2 separate regions of the Homo sapiens genome follow, and region 2 is linked to region 1. The links come from fine-mapping of genetic effects on gene expression. A gene starts in region 1. The other region holds a variant in brackets. All regions are shown on one strand. Distances are between the middles of the regions. Region 1 holds the start of PPWD1 (peptidylprolyl isomerase domain and WD repeat containing 1). Region 2 overlaps NLN (neurolysin).

Evidence for each region.
Region 2: its variant is fine-mapped to the expression of PPWD1 in blood mononuclear cells (TOPMed, PIP 0.92).

What each region holds. Positions count from the first base shown.
Region 1 is chr5:65,559,188-65,571,701 of GRCh38, reverse strand. It overlaps PPWD1 (peptidylprolyl isomerase domain and WD repeat containing 1), which reads right to left and starts at 8,406. Exons shown (of 11, transcript NM_015342.4): 1 at 8,196-8,406; 2 at 4,087-4,189; 3 at 1,970-2,070; 4 at 1,704-1,824. The coding sequence starts at 8,391. It overlaps CENPK (centromere protein K), which reads left to right and starts at 8,534. Exons shown (of 11, transcript NM_022145.5): 1 at 8,534-8,604; 2 at 10,138-10,239. RefSeq lists enhancers at 7,957-8,617, 8,758-8,897, 8,618-9,279, 11,749-12,248.
Region 2 is chr5:65,725,565-65,736,491 of GRCh38, reverse strand. All of the region lies in intron 1 of NLN (neurolysin), which reads right to left. It also overlaps the pseudogene LOC100419549. Among named protein-coding and RNA genes, the nearest start is that of NLN, 8.8 kb to the right of the region's middle. RefSeq lists a silencer at 9,138-9,187. The variant C/T (reference allele first, on the strand shown) is at 7,545.

The DNA of each region.
Region 1 (12,514 bases):
CAGAATGGGGAGGAACAGCTAAGAATAGTTACTTATTTTTTCTCTTTCTGACCTCATCAGTATAATGATAGTTCTAAGGATCTGTCAAAACATAAGAAAAGAACTGCATATAGCAGCACACTTATTTCTCTTGGGCAGATAAGGAAACCTAATCAGATCTGGACCTTAAGATCTTCTGGGACATTGCTTTTTGGATCTCTGTACAACAGTCTATGTATAACTTACTTTAAAATAGATTAGCATGTAATAGTGTATTTTATAAATCCTTTCTTGAAATATTTAAATCAAATATTTTATTATGACAATACGTCAAAGAAAAACACTGTCCTAAAACACTCTCATTACTAACTAAATCTTGATATTAAAACTCAAAGCTTTAAACATTCTACCTGATGAACAAGGCATAACAGAATTCAGACTGATCTAATCAATTGTACTAAAACACTCAAAAATGAATGTTGTTTCCTTCAAAGTAGAGATTCGGAGAAGTGACACTATTATTCTAACCACGGTGCTGATGTTCAAAACCTTCCAGACCTCTTCTTCAAGAATTTCTATCAAAGTCTGAAATATACTCTTCCAAGTATTCTCAAAGGGCAAACATTCAATATCTGTGAATGGAAAGCTTTGAGGAAACAAACCTGGGGAGTAGGACAGGTGATCAAGACAGGTATGTTTGTGCCATTCTAACCATAAATAATGAGATTTATTTCCTTTAGTGGCTCATAAAGTCATAAACTGATTTTGAAGGAAATTCTAAGATGTGAAATTATTTGAATTGTGGGCATAATTCAGCCCACAGTTGGAATTCCATCAGTTGGAATTTCTAGAGACATGGTCTTCAGGAGGTAATTAAGGTTAATGAGCTCATAAGAGTCAGGGTGGGGTCCTAATCTGATGGGCTTGTAGCCTTATAAGAAGAAAAAAAGATCTCCCTTTCCTTCTTCCCTCTCCCTTCCTTCTTCCTCCAACCATGGGAGAACATAGGGAGAAGTAAGAAAGACAGCCCTCATCAGAAATCAAACCCTGATGGAACCTTGATCTTGGACTTTCCAGCCTCCAGAACTGTGAGAAAATAGATTTCTGTATTTAAGTCACCTAGTCTATGGTTTTTTTGTTATGGCATCCAAGCAGACTAAGGCGAGTCCCAAAACTTTCTGACACTGTTATGACTTTCAAGCTGACATTCATTTAGATGTGTATAAATTCTATGTTATCTTAAAAAAGACATGCTTAAAACAAAGTATCAGTCTTAATACTGTACAATCTAACCATAGTTTTAGTATCAATATATTCCAAAGTTTAAAGTCACCAATAAATAGCTTTAATTCCAAAAATGTGAATAAATCTTATAGGAACTCAATTCTATATTACTGAAATAAGTAAAGCAAGGAAGTTAACTGTAACTACCAGTAATTAGATATGACAGAGCTCCAGTAATATTACTAAGTAATGTCAATTTGGATATAAGGAATCCTTGTTATGATGCTGTTTAGAAATTTCTGTGATTGATAACAAATCATAGCAGATGCTTCCAAACATTATAAGGCTTCACTGTATCTAATTTTCCAAGCAAAACCCAACAGCACATTTTATTTAAAGATATGGTAATATACTATTTAGAAATAACCTATTAAATGGTAAAGTCTGATTTACAAATTACTTCAATAAGTTAAAATATATATACTTTTAAAAAGACTCACCCAAGTTTCAGCATGTTGATCATGTCAAAGTTCACTACATCAAACACCTTCATTGCTTTATCATCACCCACAGAACAGAACAATGCTCCCTCAGAGCTAACTGCAATACTCTCAATAACTCCTATTTCAATAAATGAAATTAAAACATTCTAGTAAATAACAGTAAAATAAGTGTGCATGATTCAAAGAAAAAAAATTTAAAAAATTTAAACTTTAATTAGTATAGTTTAGGAAAGAGCTACAAGAAAATGAGGTGCAATTCTTACCCAGGTGACTACGAAAATGTTTAACAAATTCAATTCCCTCTTCTATTTTTTTCCAGAACTTGACATGTCCATCATGACTGGCAGTAATAATAAAATCTGTTCTGCATATATGAAATGTTAAAAGTTAATTTCTAAGACAGATCTATGAATCACTTAGTATTCCCAAAGCAATCATTCACTAAGAATCTGACTTGTGCATAATAGGTTTTTTTTTAAAAAAAACCCTTCTTTAAGCAGACCACTATATTACAGAACACTGCAAATTTTGAAACTCCTTTCTGGATGTCAAAACAGTTACAGCTGTACTAATTTTAACCTCAAGAGCTAGGATCAGAATTGAACTAGAATTTGACATTAAAATAAAAATCTCACTAGGAATCACTACACTTTGGATTCCTTATTGCTAAAATTACCCTACAGACAGTCTTTTCACAAGAAAATAAACTATTTGTCAGTAGCTGATAAGTAAATCTAAACATACTACTTTCATACGCAACAAAATTCAACAAAAGTTTTTTTTATATCCTATACAAGGTATTTTGGTTACTTAAGTATCAAAAAGATTTTGTACAGAAGAATCTTTCCTATTAGGTATGTAAAAATAGAAATCATTTATGGAAACCCAGTATATGTCAGGTACTTTGTACATATTACCTTAGTTAATTTTACAGCAACTCTACGTATTTTTATCATCATTTTATAAGTAGGAAATAGTTTTAAAATGTTAAATGTACTTGCCTCAGGTCCATATAGCTAGAGTGGCTTTCAATCTACCACACCACAAAACCTATATTCTCTGTATTACCTTCCATTGTCTTGGGTTAAAAAAACAAAACAAAAATATTTGAGAAGAGAGTGACAGCAATGCTAATATGTATATATATACTGTTTTACCACACTGATAACTTGAGACTAGAAAAGGTGCTAATATTTGGTCAGAATTATCCTATTTTACATGAAATATAAATATTTTATTTAGATTTATATATGAAATTAAATTTGTCTTCAAGACATCAAGAATAGACTGATCTAAAAAAGTGTAAAGTAATCCACCTACTTCCCATACTCACTGCTAGTATCATCCAAGCCACCATATCTCATCCAGATTTCTATACCAGCTTCCTAACTTATCTCCCTGTATCCATTCTTGCCCTGTTTGAATCCATTCATCTCACCACAGCCAGGGTGGTCCTTTAATAAAAATAAATCTGATGATGTTACTCTCCTGCTCACAGGTTCAAAACCCGTACAAGAAATAAAAAGTCTTCTAGGATTTAGCCCTTGCCTTTTAAATAGCAGCCTAATATGCTATCTAACCTCTCTAAACTTCAGTTTCGTCATCTCTAAAATGAAGAGCATGTACTAACTCACAAGATTATCCTTATGATAAATAAGAAAATTTATGAAAAAGCCTTAACTTGATAGATAAAAAAAGAAAAAGCCTTAGCATAGTACCTGGGACATACTATAAGCTCAACAAACAGTAGAATATTACTACAGTTTGAGTATCCCTTATCCAAAATGTATCGGACCAGAAGTGTTTTGGAGTTTCAATTTCTCAGATTTTAGAATATTTACATTATACTTGCTGGTTGAACATCCCTAATCAGAAAATCTCAAATGCTCCAAAGAGCATTTTTTGAGTATCATGTTCAGCACTCAAAAACTATTGGATTTTGGAGCATTTTATATTTGGGGTGCTCAACTTGTACTATTATTATCCTTCTACACGAACCTACTCATCTGTTTTGAAGGTCCTTTGCTATTCCTAGGGTATGTTAGCCCACATTTTCTCCACTAGTGCCAAAGAGGCCAGGTACCAGTTACTCATATCTTAACTAATGTACCCTCTTCTTCAGGGAAGCTCAGACACTACCTGGTTCACTCCCCTCTTGGCATTTATCTCCAAAGACATACATATAAACTCAGGGGTTCTATCTTAGAGAATGCATTATTTGTACGATATAGGAAAGAACATGTAGGCCTTTATTTCAGAACTTAAGAAATTAAAAATCTACAAAATCTTAAAATTATCTCTATAAATCTACCTCAAAATTGAAGCTTTTTTTTTTTTTAAATAAACTCAGAACAAAGTAAAAAAGATGTGATAGACTTACTTGGTGCATACCACATGGGTGATAACATCTCTATGCATGTAACTGCGCTCATACATGGATGCACTGGGGAGATTATCAAGATAGACTCTTTCAAACTCTAAGACTGAAGAAAAAAAAGTAAAGTATAAGATCTATTTTTAACAAATAAACCAAATACTATTTTGTATTTTCTTTATTTAAAATTGTCTACACTCTACTTGGTATTTTCTCCTGGATTTTAGTTTTTCTCAATTCACAATTAAAAAATCCAGTATGTTATCTCAGTTTTAACGTCTATTATTTCAGAGCACTGAATAGCGTCATTATTTAGTCAGTTACAACAGGTTCCCAGGTACTATATACATGCTAACTGTCCCCAGGACTTAAGAAATGAGTGCTTCTGGCTTAATGTGAATGTTCTATTAAAAAAAAAGAAAAGAAAAAAGAAAGAAAAAGGAAAAAAAATTAAAAAGTTCCATGAAAATATCACAACCATCTTCCTAACATTGTAGACATAATTTAGTGCTAACTTAAAAGAGTCCAGTGGCCATCTGTAAGATGTCTCAGTTAATATTTAAAGCACTGATTCTCTTTCAAGTTATTGACACTGTGTTTGAAACATTTAAACATGGTAAAATTCTTAGATTTTTATGCCTGAGAACATCCTAGGGAGTATCCAGTTGAATGTATCTCAAATTTTTTCCAACGGCAAAACCTGGAAAAAATCCACCTGAAAGAGTAGTAATCTGAGGAATGTCAGGAAATACTGATTTATTATATGAGGTATGAACAATTTTACTAGCAAAAAAAAAAAAAGAAAGAAAGGGATGGAGAGAATGAGGGAGGGAAGTAAGGAAGGAAAGAAGGGAGGGAAAGAAAGACGAAGGGAGGGAGGGAGAGAAGAAGGAAGAGAAAGAAGGGAAGGAAGGAGGGAACGAGGGGAGGGGAGAATTATATGTATCCCAAATAAAATAACTGAACGATGACCAAACGTGCCTAAAAAAAGTTGCTAAATTAAACATGACGAGCTGTTTCAGGCTTGTGTCTGATAAACTACTTTTCCCTTCATTTTTAGGAACAGAACCCCCATTTATATATGGGCATACTGATGTCCAGATATAACATGACCTTTCTCACTTTCCCCTGGAGTGAGGTTTAACCATATGCTAATGAGTAAAAGTGGAAATGTTTTGTCACAGGAAGTCTTGAAAAAGTGTACCCTTCTTCCTTTCCTCAATCCTATAGCTTGGAACTGGGATATAACTGCTGTAATCTTAATAATCATTCAGAGAAATGAAGATGAGGGCTGTACCTTAGTTATGTTGGGCAGAAAGCTGGAGAGAGCCTAGGAACTTCTGGAGCCTCCACACCAATCCTGGACTGCCTGCCTGTCTTGGTACTTCTACACATAAAAGTACAGCTCTATCTCTTCAACATCGTTATTTTGGGTTTTTCTGTAGTATGTAGATAAACTTAATCCTATCTGATCCAGATTCCTTTTTCTGTGTGATAGTTCACTTGTGGACAAATACTTACTAAGAACACAATACGTTCTAGGTCACATGGGCATAAAGAAGAGTAAAACACAGTTCCTGTCCTGAAGAGATATAGTGCTATATAATCATGTCTTTCTGAAAATATATACAACAGTCCAATGTCCAAAGAACATGTTAAAGGGGGTGACTCCATTTCTAGAAAGCTGAAATTGTTAAATACTTGTCCATTTAGACAAAATTTTAAATATTTTTGTAACATTCTATGTATGTTTTTTAGTTTCAATTTTTTTCTTCAAACTGAATAAACTATTGGCTTTTTTTTTTTTTTTTTTTGAGACGGAGTCTTGCTCTGTTGCCCATGCTGAAGTACAGTGGCACAATCTCAGCTCACTGCAACCTCTGCCTCCTGGGTTCAAGTGATTCTCCTGCCTCAGCCTCCTGAATAGCTGAGATTATAGGTGTGCGCCACCACGCCCGGCTAATTTTTTTGTATTTTTAGTAGAGACTGGCGGGGTTTCACCATGTTGGTCAGGCTGGTCTAGAACTCCTGACCTGATGATCTGCCCGCCTCAGCCTCCCAAAGTGCCAGGATTACAGGCATCAGCCACCACACCCGGCCAACTATTGGCTGTCTTAAAACAATAAATAACTGATTAAGAGGAAAGATTTTCACACCTACTAATTTATATCTGTCTCCGTTATATTAAGTTTATAAGACACTTGTCCGGTAACACTAATATCAGCATTTCGATATTTCTGGATTTTTACATTTCTCCTTACTCGTTTAATTAAAAAAGAACTTGCAAAAATATTCATATGCAACAAAATAGCTAAAGACCAGCATAAAAGCTTTAATATGCAGTCATTAAATACTTAGGCAAAGCACTGTACACCAAGCAATGAAACAAAAAAGGCGTGATTCTGGTTCTTACTTGTTTACAGTCTTAGCAGTGGAGAGAAACATTCATCAATCACATGAATAAATATATAATTAGAAACTGCGGCAAGTGCCATAAATAAAATGGTTACTATGGAAACATTTAATAAGAGGACCAGGAAGTAAAAATGATAATGCACTGTAAGGGTGTCAATATACAACGTTCAAAAAAACAGCTTCTTCAAAATTTGGATACATAAAATTTGAAGGCTACCTGTAAATTCAGTATTGATATATAACTACCTCAGAGTTATGATCAAAGTGCTTCAGAAATCCAGTCCAGACTGGAGAAGTCACAGGCTTCCCAGAGAAGATGATAGCTAAGTGCTAAAGGTTGACCAAAAGTCAGTTCAGTGGAAGAGTTGAGGGAAATTATTCCCGGTAGAAACACCATATCTGGGTAGGAATCCAGAGGAAAAAAAAGTACAAGACCGATTCTCGAGTGATTTTAGAATGGGTGGAGTACAAAGTAAGGGGTTGGGAGAGGAAGGTAATGGAAGATGCACTAAGAAGGTAAGGAGAGATCACATCATAAAGGGCTTTATATGCCATGTGAGGGAGTTTGGGCTTTAATGAAAATAATGAGCTGGGCGCCGTGGCTCATGCCTGTAATCCCAGCACTTTTGAGAGGCCGAGGCAGGCAGATTACGAGGTCAAGAAATCAAGACCATCCTGGCCAACATGGTGAAACCCCGTCCCTACTAAAAATACAAAAATTAGCTGGGCGTGCGCCTGTAGCCCCAGCTACTCGGGAGGCTGAGGCAGGAGAATCGCTTGAACCCCGGAGACGGAGGTTGCGGTGAGCCGAGATAGCGCCACTGCATGCGCTCCAGCCTGGGCGACAGAGCGAGACTCCGTCTCAAAAAAAAAAAAAAAAAAAAAAAAGAGAGAGAAAATAATGACAAATCATTGAAGTTTTTTAAGGGAAGGTGCTAAAGTACGATTTGAGCTTAGACCACATTTAAAATGTCTTAAATACTTAAGGAAAACATTTCACAGAAAAACAAGATAACAAAACAACAAAGACAAGAAAACTTAATCTACCCCTTTTCCCACCCCTTTTATTTGATAATAATTTGTGATTATTCCTCGTTAGTGACAAAAAGACTCAGCCCATCGTATCAAGAGCGTGATTTCAAAACCACAGACTTCGGGTTTTGGATGAAAACAAATCTGTGATCTAGGAAGCTTACGTCATTTTCCCTAGATGCGAAAATTTATTAGTGGAAGTGTCAGAGTTGAAATTATCTTTACCTACCATGATTCGAAATAAGCACCGCCTTCCTCTCGCGCCCCAACACATTAATACATTAACACCACTCCTGAACTAAAGCCTTAAAGAGAACTGGTACCCTTTTGCATACCTAAATAAGAGTTCGAAATTCCAACTTCATGTGGCTGCTGTGGGGAGTAAATGAGAGGAGCCAAACACATAAGAATAGGAAAATGTTAGTTTTAGCATCTGTCATAACAAATCAATGATCAAAAGTGTTAGATATTATCAAAAAGACGTTGTACTACGCTTAAATCACTATTTCGTTAAGACATGCAAGTATGGAGTAGCCAGAAGTGAGAGGACGGCCCTCTGTTCTGAGGGCACAAAACTCCACACATCATCCCTCTTCGGATCTGGCTTGAACCCTCCTACTCAGCGGACGCAGCACTCCAATTCGTCCCGGTACTATGTCTGCAGCTACCTTTCCTCTTCTTGGCCAGTGTTGCCTCCACAGGTAAAGGTCCAACCCAGCGCTCTTCGTTCTCCTCATCGTTCTCCTGGGACACCGCCACTGCTACTGCCAGCTCTCTTTCGCTGAGTTCTGTTTTTTCCGGTTCCTCCGGGTCCCGGCGCCTTCTACGTCTCTGCTGAAAATCGCTACCACTTTCCGCCGCCATGTTGTTCGCATCGTCAGAAAAGGCGCGACACAAAACTCAGCTACCAATCCCAAAGCAGCGGCGCAGTCTTCTGTCAGCGTCCGAGCGAGTTTCGGGATTGGCTGGGGTGGGAATGAGCACATCCAATGGGCATGCAGCGCGCGCAGAAGTCCGGGGCTGGCAAGCGCTTCCTGCGCAGCGCCTAGGCGACCTGGAGTTTGTGACGCTGTGATGGTAAGACCTGGGCCGGGGAGGTTGATATAACGGTTGAATCTTGTGGAGCTCCAGTCCTGAAGGTGAAACCCTTATCGCCGGCCAACTAGATACCTGACTTCCCAGCCGGGCTTTGAGTCCCGTTCTTCTCGGCTTCCCGCGCGCCAACGCAAGCTCCATAACCTCACCAATATTTAGAGAAAGATGGAAGGGTGGGGACAGAAGGAAGTGGTTAACTCGCGGGTTTCCTTTCAGATGCACTAAACATGTTTTCTCTCCTGACCTTTATTCTCTCACACACTCTCTGAAGAAGGTGGTGAGTGCTTGTTACTGTTTCTGGGGGTGGGGTGGAGAAGCAGCTACTTCAAATAACCAAAAGACCTAGGGCAGAACGGGTCACTCTTCTTTCTTCTCTCTGGTATAGGATTTCATCTCCTAGCAGTCATCTGAACTCTTTCTCCTCCTCCTCATCTGTCTTCTTCATTTTTAAAAAATTAGGTAAAAAGCACATAACATAAAATGTATTATCTTAATCTCTTTTTTAAAAAATCAAATACAGCTTGTCAAAATGACCTCCGTAAAACACTTCTTTTTTCTCTGCAATTACTTTTGCACCAACCTAATAAAATCCTCGTCGTAAATCTCTTCTCTACTTTTGCCTTGAGATAGGCACCACGTACAGGGAAGGAACTGCCCCCCCATAGTAGGCACTTTATTTTATTTCAAAGGTTCCCATTATTTGACCATTCTACCTAGCAAGTCTCATTTCTTCTCTGCCCTCTGCTCTCATCAGACTACTTTCTTTTGTGTCTCACAAATTTCCCTTGTTCGTTCTTGCCTCCTACTCTTATGTTTTTATGCTTGAAAGCATCTCCACAGCGATTTAGCCTTCATGTTTACAGCTTCTCATCTTTCAGAGACCAATGCAATAATGAGGATGAAGATGATAATGATAATGATAATAATAATGTAGCTAGTTAACATTTATTAAGCATTATTATGGACTAATTCCTTCCGGGTTGGTTTTTCTAAGCTTCCCTATCCTGAATTCCGATAGTACTTGCAGGCAGTGTTGTATACTTTACCATTTCATAGCACTTCTGACTACCTGAAATCATATCATGTATTTAGTTATCCATTCATTTATATTGTCTGCATGAGAATGGAAGCTCTACAAGTACAAAGACTTTTTCATCTACACAGCTAAAGCCAGTGTCTGACCAATGGCACACATTAACATATTTGTTGAATAAATGAATGTATTTTAGAATTATGTGGGTATTTTTTGCTTATTTCATGTATATTAATCTTTTCCCAATTAATAGTACGAGTTTCTTTAAGTATAGTATTATCCCTAAATAAAGAGATACTGTTTTTCTTCAATAAATGATTAAGTATTGTAGTCCTAACTGGGGACCTCAAAAAGTTGACTTGTTCCCTTTCCAGGAAGATAGGTTTAAGGATACAAAATGTGGGAACGGGAAAAGTTCAACTCTTAAGTGTGTGTGTGTGTGTGTGTGTTTTAATTAAACAACTGAAATTTATTTCTCACAGGTCTAGAGGCTGGAGATTCAAGATCTGGGTGCCATCATTTTCTGGTTCTGTTGATGACCCTCTTCCAGGTTACATACAGCTTACATCTTGCATCCTCAAGCGGTAGAGAGCAAACTCTTAAATGTTTCTATATGTTTTTATTCTACTGCCACATTAAATCGCCAAGCCAGATAATTTGTTGAATATTTATCCCTCACCCTCCGCCCCCACCACATGTGCAGAGTTTTGCATTACTTTTGCATATTGATAATGTATTTTGGTGGTCAGTAAAGAAATATTTATGTTTGACTTTTTCGCTTAAAAATATTCTAAAATTCATGATGACTGATTTTGGCTTTGTGAACTTAAACTGTATCTTATGGGTATAGCAGGTGAGATTTTCAGCCTTCTACTAGTTGACATTCAAATTGTTAATAGCTAACACTGATAAAGCTCTTTATATGCTAGCTACAGTACTTATATATATATATTTATATACTCATTTAATTGTCATAACCCTAGGGAGTATTTAATATTATCTTCATTTTATAGGAAAGGAAACTGAGGCATAGAAAGTTTAAGTGACTTGCCCAAGTCTCATAGCTTTTAAATATCAAAACAGATTTAAACCTGTATAGTCTGGTTGCAGAGTTCATACCTTTAAAGTTTTTTTTTCTCTAAGTAATGTGCCAGTAAACATAATTGTATAGACTTATGCAGACATATCTATCTTTAGGATTATTCCTAAGAATAGAACTTCTGGATCACAAGAAATGCATGTAAAATTTTGATGGATATTATCATACAAAGTGATTGTTCCACCAACAGTGCAAGCCTCTTATTTCACATGCTTGCCAGTATTATCTCTTACCAATTTTACATTATTGCCATTCTGAATGAAAATTAATGCTTGTTTAATTTGGATTTTCATAAATTATATATGAGCTTATGAATGTACTTTTTCTGTATTTAAAAGGTATTTGTTTTTTCTTTGAATTCCTCATTTGTGTTCTTTGCCAGTTTCTATTGAATTGTTTTTGTTGTTTACCTTTTTATTGTAAAAATGCAGACACAAAATAAACGTAAAGTTTACTAATTATTATGAGGTGAACACCCTTACCATCATGCTAGTCAAAAAATAAAACTTTGATAATTACCTCAGAAATCTCTCCATTTGGCCCATCCCAGCCACAACCCTTTTCCCCCTTCCACTCTTCCTCCAAAGTAATTGGTAACCTGACTTTTTTGGTAATCTTTTTTAAATTTTTTTTAATGGTGAGTTGTTTGGTTTCTTCTTATGAATTTGTAGGCACTTGTTATATATTAAGGAAATTAGGTCTTGGGTTGCCATATATATTACAAGTATTTCTCCTAGGTTTGGGGGTTTTAAATTTTAACTTTGTTGATGAGATGTTTGTCCATGCAGAATTAAAAAAAAAATTTTGGTGTAAAGATTTTACTTAGTTTTGCTTAGAAAGGTGTTTCCTAATCTAAGATTTTAAAAGTTTCTGTGTTTTCATCCTATTTTTTTGTGATTTCTATTTTGGGTTTTTTGAGGGAGTGAGGAATGACATAAAGATTCAGGTATGAATTTAGACTTATTTTTTTCTCCGCAAATACTATAAATGTTAAAAAAAAATGAGGAAGATTTATATGGACCAAAATATACATTTAAAAAACAGTATTATATATAAAATATATATCTATTTGGATTATTTTTTTCTCCTTGATTTGCCTTGTCATCTCTGTCATGTGTCATGTGTCCATATGTATGTGAATATAGAAAGTCAAGAAAGGCTTTGTATTGTGTTCCATTGCTCAATTTGCCTATTTATGTGCCAGTTCTACATTGCCATAATAGTGTAGGGTATGTCCTCCCATCTTATTTTTCATGAGGATCTTAGGCTAGTTTTGGCCCTTTGTGCTTCCATGTAAATTTTTTTTTTTTTTTTTTTCTGAGACGGAGTCTCGCTCTGTCGCCCAGGCTGGAGTGCAGTGGCGGGATCTCGGCTCACTGCAAGCTCCGCCTCCCGGGTTCACGCCATTCTCCTGCCTCAGCCTCCCAAGTAGCTGGGACTACAGGCGCCCGCCACTACGCCCGGCTAATTTTTTGTATTTTTAGTAGAGACGGGGTTTCACCCTTTTAGCCGGGATGGTCTCGATCTCCTGACCTCGTGATCCGCCCGCCTCGGCCTCCCAAAGTGCTGGGATTACAGGCGTGAGCCACCGCGCCCGGCCCTTCCATGTAAATTTTACAATTTGCTTGTCAAGTCCCATAAAGAGAAACAAAAACTTTCAGGATTTTGGTTAAGATTCAGTAGCTCAACTTGGGGGAGAATTAACGTCTTTACAATGTGGGTCTTTCAGTCCATGAATATGAAGTATCTTTCCATTTATT
Region 2 (10,927 bases), 170 kb before region 1:
AGAATTGGGCATTATTTGGTAAAGTTGAGAATGTACATCCTACAACCTAGTAATTGTTCTCTTAAATTCATACTCTTACACATATGTATCAGGAGACATTATAAGAATATTCATAGCAATATTGCTTGTAATATCAAGAAAATGGAAGCCCAAATATTCATTGACAAAATAAAAAGTAAATTTTTGGAATAGTCACACAATGAAATATCTTACAACAGTAAAAATGAACCATATCCATGTGAAACTAGTTTCATTATGCAAAACTAAATCATATGTTGTTTAGGGAAATATACATTTGTTGTAATGTTTATAAAGAAAAGCAAGAGGACAGCAATTACAAAATTCAAGACTGTGGTTATCTCTGGTATGAGGAAAGGGACATGGTTGAAGGGGGCACTCAAGGAACTTCAACGGTACTAGAAATATCATTTTACATATAGATATATTTTTCATACTAGAAATATCATTTTATATATTGACACATTTTTCATCCTTTTAGTCACATGTATATACGTATATGCATTACATTTTTTGTGTATAATATTTCATAACTCTTAAGATAAATGAATAAGTATTAGGCTCTGGAAATGGGAGAGAAAGAAAAGAATGTTCCAAATAAGAGATCAGCTTATGTTAATTTAAGGCCAGGAGATAAGGACATAAACTCTCTGGCTGAAGCATTGAGTTCACTGAGTGAGAGGAGAAGCTGGGAGAGCTACACAGGGGTCAGACTGTATAGGGATTTCTAAACCACAAGAGAGTTTTGATTGTTTAATGACAAGTAAAGAAAAATTGCAAACTGAAGTATGACATGTCACATTTGTAGTTCCTAAAGATCTCTATTTTCATAAGGAAAATATATTAGTGGTAAGCAAAAATTGATGCTGGGACTCATGATGAGGAAGATTTGGATTATGATGGTGATACTGGGAACAAAGAAAGGAGAAAGAATGTGAAGACTATCCAGGACTTGGTGTTGGTGGAAAAGGTAAAGGAAATAGAGAAAAAAGCAAGGAATGGCTCCTAGGCTTTGGACTTGCGTAAATGGTGACACTGAGGCAAAGAACAATGGCAAAAAAGCAAGCCAGGGGAATTCCGTCAATTTAGGAAAAGGTGATATTGAGATTCAACAACATAATAGGTGTTCAATAAGTATTTATTGTATTAGTCCATTCTCATGCTGCTATGAAGAAATGCCCAAGACTGGGTAACTTATAAATGAAACAGGTTTAATTGATTCACAGTTCAGCATGGCTGGGGCGACCTCATGAAACTTAGAATCATGGCAGAAGGGGAAGCAAACACCTCCTTATTCATGTGGTGGCAGGAAGGAGAAGTGCTGAGCAAAGAGGAAAAAGCCCCTTATAAAACCATCAGATCTTGTGAGAACTCAGTATCATGAGAACAGCATGGGGGTAACTGCCTCATGATTCAATTTGGGTGGGGACACAGCCAAACCATATCACTTATAAGATAAAAAAGTGGCTGACTGTGAGACCTCAGGAGCTGTCCAATTGGTAGTTGGAATCTAATATCATTCATCTATTTCTTTTTTAAATAAATAATTTGTGGTTCCCTATTTTGTATCTTGGCAGAGGAGAAAGCTACGAAACCTTAAAAAGAATTCCTATGAGAATAAAAATAATGTATAGATGTATAAATCTCAGTGTTAGAATAGTTAGATCTATGTAGCCCTGACAGTATGGACCTTATACATTGTAGCAAGCAGGCTTCATCAACCTGTGATTATTTCAGTCACTACAACTCCACCTGAGATGTGAGGCAGAAATAGAATTTTCCTTTCGGTGTTGACCACAAGTGGGATTAAATATTAAAGATACCAGCAAAATATGGCTGGGAAATATGAGGACTTCCTCTTGAATGCCAAACAGGAAGCATAGACAATCTCAGAGTGGGCAGAATGGGCAGAGTCTTTCTTTTTTTTTTTTTCCATTCAGGTTCCATTTATTTTTGACATTTTTAAATAACCATCCGTGCGAGGGTAACTCCTGCATCATTCTAGAACTTCAGGTTCCATTTCTGAGTCTAGGAAACAGGTCCCTGAAGGCTTTATTGATGCCAAGTCAGCATTTTCACCCAGTTCTGCCCCCAGCTGAGTCACCTTTGTTTTTCCACTCACAGTCAGCACGTGCCTGAAACACATGACCGTGTGCTTCCTTTAAGATGCACCTGACCGGGCCAGGCTGCTCATGCCTGTAAACCCAGCACTGTGGAAGGCCAAGGTAGTCAGATCACTTGAGGTCAGGAGTTTGAGGCCAGCCTCCTCCAACATCGTGAAACCCTGTCTCTACTAAAAATACAAAAATTACACTTTGGGAGGCCGAGGCGGGTGGATCACGAGGTCAGGAGATTGAGACCATCCTGGCTAACTTGGTGAAACCCTGACTCTACTAAAAATACCAAAAATTAGCTGGGTGTGGTGGTGGACACCTGTAGTCCCAGCTACTCTGGAGGCTGAGGCAGGAGAATGGCATGAACCCTGGAGGCAGAGGTTGCAGTGAGCCGAAGTCGTGCCAGTGCACTCCAGCCTGGGTGACAGAGCGAGACTCCGTCTCAAAAAAAAAAAAGAAAAAAAAATACAAAATTAGTTGGGTGTGGTGGTGCATGCCAGTAACACCAGCTACTAGGGAGGCTGAGGCAGGAGAATCACTTGAACCTGGGAGGTGGAAGTTGCAGTGAGCTGAGATTGTGCCACTGCACTTCAGCCTGAGGGACAGAGCGAGACTCCATCAAAAAAAAAAAAGCACCTGTGTCCTAGATTTTAGTGCCCAAGGGTCCAGAAGAAAGCGTATCCATCCCACTAATCAGGCCTTCCCTAAGAGCAAAGATGGAGGTCCACTTTCTCAGATGGCCATGAGCCACAGGAAGGGCAGGGGACGGGACCAAAAAAGATCCTCTTGGGCTGCCTGACTTCCCTGACTGTACACATCAGCTCAGCCCGAATTGGGGCAAGGATCTCCCAATTGGCATGACCCCTGTTGTCAAGACTCTCCAGATGGGAAGGATACAATTCCAGGCCTAACTTGCTCAGCCCGCCTGTGTGACACAGCAGGTCTTTCAGAGCATTCATGGAGGTCTCGTTTCCATGAAAGTAGAAGGTGGTGAGCTGGGAGCAGTGGCTCAGGGCAGGCAGGAGGAGCCTGAGTTGGGAGTCCTGGATCTGACAGTCCTTTAACGTGAGGGTCTCGAGAGTAGCAGCAACTTTCTCTAGCAGAGCTCCAAGGGGCTCAAGATTGGTGGTCCACATTAGGATATGAATCAGATGCAGCTCCTTTAGCTGACTGAGGCTTGGTTACTAAGACAGACACTCCATGTCCCGATCAGCTAGGTAAGCATGACAGAATATAAAGGCCCCCAAGAGGTTCTTGAGGCACCTGGGGAGAGCAAGAAATTAGTTATGGGCAATGGTGCCAGTTAGAGGAGGGGGGTGGGAAATCATCTCAATGGTAAACTTGAAGTGGGCATTGAGTAATTCTGCACCTTACTACCACACAGGTGTTATAGTAACTGCAATGGGGAAGCCTGTTTCACCCAAACACAAGTTTGTTCCCATCATCAGATGATGGTCTGTGTGCAAGGTGCTGCCTGATGAAGACTCAGATCATTCAGGGGCAGCTCCATTTTAGGCTCAGTCCTTTCAGCCTTGCTTGTGTGATTGGTTCAAGGCCACAAAATCTTTAAAGCCTCTTTACTGCATCTTTCAGCAGACAACCTCATCTCTGGGCCAGAGGAGCCCAGTGGGAGATGTGCACAAAGAACTCAACTGAGCAAGGTCTAGGGACATCAGCTAGGGCCACCTGTCTGCAAAGGTTCCCTGACGTGCCCGCGTCTGCAAACCACCTATCACTTTATACCACTCTCCTGCCTACTCCCTCACCTCTGTCCAAGAAGCACGCTTTTCTCATGTCAACTACTTTTCCTGGGGTTCAAAAGAACCTTTTACAGACAGAGAATTAGAGACAGGATCATTGGTGTTTACTAAGCTGTGAGGACGGAGCTTCTACTGTGAAACGCACAGGTTTGATGCACTTTCCCTTCTTTCATACTCTCCTCTATATGAAGTGTAAGTTTCATCATATTAACTTCAAACACACTTCCTAAAAAGGAATTCACAAATGCACCCTCCCTAGATCTGAACCCCTGACTAACTAGCTCCCTGCATGTCTCTCTCTGTAGCATCTGGCCCGGGCCATCCCTCTGGGCAGAGTCTTTCTAATGTAAGCTATGGTGAACGGGAAATCCAGATTTCATAAGCTGGACTTCCTTTTATACTTCTTGCAGTTTTGCAGTTTCGGTGTTGATTTCCTTTTTGTTTCACTCAATAATTTGAAGAAGTCTTTTTAAAAAAGTCAGCCCTCATGATAGATAAAGGGTTTAAGTGTGAAAAATGAAACATAAAAGTACTAGAAGAAAATGTAGATGCTGGGTGTGGTGGCTCATGCCTGTAATCGTAGCACTTTGGGAGGCTGAGGTGGAAGGATTGCTTGAGCCCAGGAGTTTGAGATCAGCCTGGGCAACATGGTGAAACCTTGTCTCTACAAATAATACAAAAATTAGCCAGGTGTGGTGGCTCACACCTGTAGTCCCAACTACTTGGAAGGCTGACGTGGGAGGACTGCTTGAGACTGGGAGGCAGAGGTTACAGAGAGATGAGATTGTTCCACTATACTCCAGCCTGGGTGACAGAGCTAGACTCTGTCTGAAAAAAAAAAAAAAAAAAAAAAAAAAGAAAATGTAGGTGATTTTTAAAATACATAATCTTGGGGTGGAGAAGGACTTTCTAGGAATGAGACCAAAGGCAGAAATCATAAAGGAAAAGACTGATATTTCTGACTGTATAAAAATTTAAACTTTTGTAGGGATAAAGCAAAAAAGCAAAAAGCAACAATAATCTACCCCAAAAGTTCAAAGATCAAAAACAACTGAAACATCTATGAGGGGCTCTTACAAAGTAATAATCCTAATTTTAAAAATCCCAAAATAAAACTAGGCAATTCACACAAGTAAAAACAGTAACTAATATTTCTCGAGATTTTATTATGTGCCGATGTGGTAGACTGATAACTAACATGGCCTCAATTTTCTACCTGCTATGAGTCTATGTCTCTTAACAATGTGAGTTTGCTGTTCTACCCATCAAGAGATAGAGTCTGTTTCCCCACTTCTTGAATCTGGGCTAGCCTTGTGACTTGCTTTGACCAGTAGAATGTGGCAGAGCTAATGAGGTTCCAGTTCCAACTGCCTTCCACTCTCTCATGGAACCCTGCCACTGACATGAGAACAAGCCAGAGGTGGCTTCTTGGAGGACGAGACGTCACAGGAAAGAGGGCCAAATAGCCCCAGCTGTGGCCATCCTACATCACCAAACATGTGAGAGAGGATAGCAGAGATCAGCAGAGCTGCCTACACAACCCATGGCTGACTGAAGGAGCATGAATGAGTTAAGATCAGAAAAACTGCCCAGCCAAAATCTAGATTTGTCAGCAAAAATAAACATTGATCATTGTACTCCACTGAAATTCAGTTTGTTATACAGCATTTTTGTGGTAATAGGAATGGATATAACCAGGCAATGTTCAAAGTGTTCTATATTTGTTTCAATCTTAAAAGGTGAGTACAGGCCAGGCACGGTGGCTCACGCCTGTAATCCCAGCACTTTGGGAGGCAGAGGCAGGTGGGTCACTTGAGGTCAAGAGTTCCAGCCTGGCCAACATGGTGAACCCCTGTTTCTACAAAAAATACAAAAATTAGCTGGGCATGATGGCGGGTGCCTGTAATCCCAGCTACTCAGGAGGCTGAGGTGGGAGAATTGCTTGAACCCAGGAGGAGGAGGTTGCAGTGAGCTGAGATTGCGCCATTGCACTCTAGCCCGAGCAATAGAGTGAGACTCCATCTAAAAACAAACGAATAAAACAAAAAAAAAAAAAGAAGAAAATAGAAAAAAAAGGATGAGTCCAATTTTTCCCTGTCTCATCTCCTACTTACTTGCCTGACATTTATTCCATGCTAGTCACAATGGTCTCTTTACTTTCTCAAAAACACCAGGCATAGCCCTGCTTTCAGAGCCTTGGTGTGTGCCGTTTCTCCTGCTTAGAATGACCTGCCTCAGGTATTCACATAGCACAACTGCTCATTTCTCTTAGATCATTACTCAAGTATTAATATCACTTTCTTGGTAGCCTTTCCTGTTGACTCTACAATTTCCTTCCTATCGGTACTGAGCATTCCCCTTTCCCATTTTACTTTTGCTCTGCAGCACATTTTCCCATCTAACTTACTTTATATTTTCCTTAGTTGTCTCTCCCACTGGAATGTAAGTTCCATTAATGCAAAGATTTTTATCTGCTTTGTTCATTGCTATATCCCCAGACCAAGAATACTATTTCGCATATAATAGACAATAAATATTTGGTGAATGAAGAAATCAGCCAATCAATTATCAATTTACTGAGGAGGAAACAGATACGGAGAACTTAAGTATTCTTGCCTAAGATCACAATGCTAGTCAGTGGCAAAACCAGCATTCAAACTCAGGCGAGCTGTTTCTAGATTTATATAGTCGACTCTATGATGCTACATGCACTTTGCAATGCGGCAGCTTGGCATTTACATATGTATTCAATACACATCAGTTTCCTTGGTTCTTCATATCTTTAATTCAGGGGATTCTTCCCAAGTAAGTCCTGTGCTTTGTCTTAACCAAAGAGGTGATAATGTTTAACTCTGAGAAAGAACCAGGTTGCTTCTGACCAAAACCAGGGTTAAAGGACAAACAAAAAAGAAAGAAATCAATCCTCGGCGGAGCACGGTGGTTCACGCCTGTAATCCCAGCACTTTGGGAGGCCGACGCGGGTGAATCATGAGATCAGGAGTTCGAGACCAGCCTAGCCAACATGGTAAAACCCCGTCTCTGCTAAAAATACAAAATATTAGCTGGGCGTGGTGGCAGGTGCCTGTAATCCCAGCTACTCCGGAGGCTGAGGCAGGAGAATCACTTGAACCCAGGAGGCGGAGGTTGCAGTGATCCAAGATCGTGCCACTGCACTCCAGCCCGGGCAACAGTGCAAGACTCCATCCTAAAAAAAAAAAAAAAAAAAAAAAGAAAAGAAAACCTATTTTATAACCAAATCCATTTGTACAAATAATGTCAACCTAGCTCTTGATACTTTAACTTAAAAAACCCTTTCTTTACTAGATTTTTTTCCCCAATACTGTTCTCTTAACATTTTGGAGATTATGCCTACTGGTTTTAGAGGAATAATCTCAATTTTATTTAATTACACTTAGACCTGTAAATATTGTTAAGTTTATTAATAACTGTAATTTAGGCTGGGCCCAGTAGCTCATGCCTGTAATCCCAGCACTCTGGAAGGTTGAGGCGGGCAGATCACTCGAGCCCAGGAATTAGAGACCAGCTTGGGCAACATGGCGAAGCCCTGTCTCTACAAGAAATACAAAGATTAGCCGGGTGTGGTGGCAAACACCTGTAGTCCCAGCTACTCGGGAGGCTGAAGTGGGAGGAT[C/T]GTTTGAGCCCGGGAGGTCGAGGCTGCAGTGAGCCATGATCATGCCACTGCACTCTAGCCTGGGCAACCAAGTGAGACTCTGTCTCAAACAAACAAACAAAAACACCAAGAAAACTGTAATTGAATTTGTCTGACTTTCTAAGATTTTCCATATAAATAAATTTTCACATCAGACAACAAATAACTTTTTGGTTTCCAGACCACAACTCCTGAATTTTTGTTTAGGAATTATACTCACTGAATAAACCTTCCAAAAATGTATGAAAATGCAAATTATAATAAGAGAAATTTCCACTTATCAAACTGGTAAGGATAAAAAAAATTAAAATGCTCAATGTTGGTAACAGTATAGGAAACCAGCATTTACTTACTCACCTGGTAAGGTTATAATTTGGGAGAAAGTTTTTAGAATAGAATAAGATGATAAGTACCAAAGACCTGAAAGGTATGCATGCCCTTTGATGTACAAATTCCATTTGTAAGAATTTATACTAAGAAAATAACTAAAGATTTGGAAAAGGACAATAGGAATGTTTATCCAAGCACTATTACTCATTGCAGGAAGTTGGGAATAGTTGACATTTCTAAAGGCGTATATTAATCAAATTGCATACATCCCCAAAAGGAATATATTATAGCTATTTATATTTTAGGGGATGTTTGTATAATATTAAAAATTATAAAAGAATAACAATATCATATTTATAAAAAGAAAGTCTGTTCATAGAGGAAATTTTGAAAGCTGTTAAGAATTGGCTGTTCCAGGTGGCTGGATTATATATATATTTAATATTTTCTTTTGCTTGTCATTACTTGCTAAGTTTTCAATAATGAACACGCATTGCTGTCATCATTTTAAAAAACCAAGCTGTGTTTTTTAGGCCAGGTGCAGTGGCTCACGCCTATAATCCCAGCACTTTAGGAAGCTGAGGTGGGCAGATCACTTGAGGTCAGGAGTTCAAGACCAGCCAGGCCCACATAGTGAAACCCCAGCTCTACTAAAAATACAAAAAATCAGCCAGGCGTGGTTGTGGGGACCTGTAATCCCAGCCACTCAGGAGCCTGAGGCAGGATAATTGCTTGAACCCAGAAGGCAGAGGTTGCAGTGAGCCGAGATCATGCCACTGTATTCCAGCCTGGGCAACAGAGCGAGACTGTCTCAAAAAAACAAAAACCAAAAAACAAACCAAGCTGTCTTTTCTAATTGCAAGAGGAAGCTAGGCTATTACAGCTATTGTTTCGGCTAAATATTGTTGAGTCAACCTTCTCGTTTGTTTCTTTGACCATGTCACTCATCCCTCTTATTCTATAATATACATTAGGCTTTGCTTGGGTCACATGCTGTACAATCTGAGGTAGGAGGAGGAATTCTCCTGGTTTGCTATGGCAATATAGAGGTTTTTTGCTTTTTGTTTTTTTTTTAAGGCCTTAGCTATTATTTAGTCTAGTCCTTTTCATTTTACAATATAAGGAACCTGGGCCAGGCATGATAGTACACTCCTGTAATCCCAGCACTTTCAGAGGTTGAGATGGGAGGATCATTTGTGGCCAGGAATTCTAGACTAGCCTCGGCAACATAGCAAGATCCTATCTCTACAAACAATTTTTTCAAATTAGCTGGGCATGGTGGTGAGCGCCTGTAGTCCCAGCTACTCAGAAGGCTGAGGCAGGGAGGATTGTTTGAAACCAGAGTTTGAGACCGCAGTGAGCCATGATCATGCCCCACTGCACTTCAGCCTGGATGACAGAGTGAGACCTTGTCTCTAAAATACATACATACATAGGTACATAACTTGAAAGAGGTCCAAGGGAGTGAGTGATTTTTTTAAGGTCACAAAGTGAATTGAACAGCAACTATAATCCAAACTCCAGATTCTCAGTCCACTTATTCCCAAGAAGTTGGCTGAACACCCCAATCAATGATCCTAGCTGGAAGCTGGCCTTGGGAAGGGGATATAGCAGCTCTGCCAACAAGAAAACCCAATGGAAACTGTAAGTCAGTTAGGCAAAAGCCTAGTTACTCCATAACACTAAAATGAACTCCCAAGTGTCAGAGGAAACAGGAAAAACAGGAGAACACAGGGGGTCCTCCATGTTGTCTAATATGAACTCTTTTGGAAGATACTGATTTTGAAACAGAGCAGATTCTGTGATTAAGTCAAGGAAGCCCTGGGTTAAGGACTACCATATATGATGATTAACTGTAAGATATGCCCTTATGTAACAAATTAGTTAATATATTTATGGTAGCTTCTAACAAGGTAATAATTTTTTGGCTATTAGTATATTTATTTTCTTCCATGCATAAACAAAGAATCTAATACCACATATCGGCAGCTCTCAAAATGTAGTCCACAAACCTTAAAGGTAGAGGTATGGGGAGGGGTTCCTGAGACACTTTCAAGGAATCTGTGAGGTTAAAAATCTTTCATAACAATACTAAGACATTATTTATCCTTTTTACTTTATGAACATTTGCACTGATGGCGAAAAGGAATGGTGGATAATACTGTTGGTACTTCAGCACAAATTGAGGCAATGACACCAAACTATACTAGTAGCTATATTTTTCATTGCCATGCACTCAGGCTAAAAATAATGTCAATTTCATTTTAGAATATCCTTAATGAAATGGTAAAAAGTATGAATTTTTATTAAATCTCTACCTTTGAGTTATATGTGACCAAGTACACACAAAGCATTTCTGCTGTGTACCTGAGTATAAGGGTTGTCCTGAGGATTTGGTTGCCCAAATCAAAAGCACTTTTGCAATTGGTTGAACTGTGAGCTGAAATAGATTTTTTTCATGGAAAACCATTTTTTTTTTTTTTTTTTTGAGACGGAGTCTCGCTCTGTCGCCCAGGCTGGAGTGCAGTGGCACAATCTCGGCGCACTGCAAACTCCACCTTCCGGGTTCACGCCATTCTCCTGCCTCAGCCTCCCGAGTAGTTGGGACTACAGGCGCCCGCCACCACGCCCGGCTAATTTTTTGTATTTTCAGTAGAGACAGGGTTTCACCGTGTTAGCCAGGATGGTCTCGATCTCCTGACTTCGTGATCCACCTGCCATGGCCTCCCAAAGTGCTGGGATTACAGGCGTGAGCCACCGTGCCCAGCCCATGGAACACCATTTTTACCAGAAAAAAACTACTGACAGACAAACCAGGGTTATTCAGACTTAAGTATGTGGCAGAAATTCTGTCAAAAATGTAACAAAGTGAGATTGTCACTTCAAGTAAAACAACTGACAGTTTGTGTTACCAATGATAAAATTCTAGCTTTCAAGTGAAAACTAGAATTTTGGAAAATCCTATCTGCCACTGTGAGCTTGACAGCTTCCCAATACTTGAAGACTTTTCCGACTAAATAGGAAGACATTAAGGA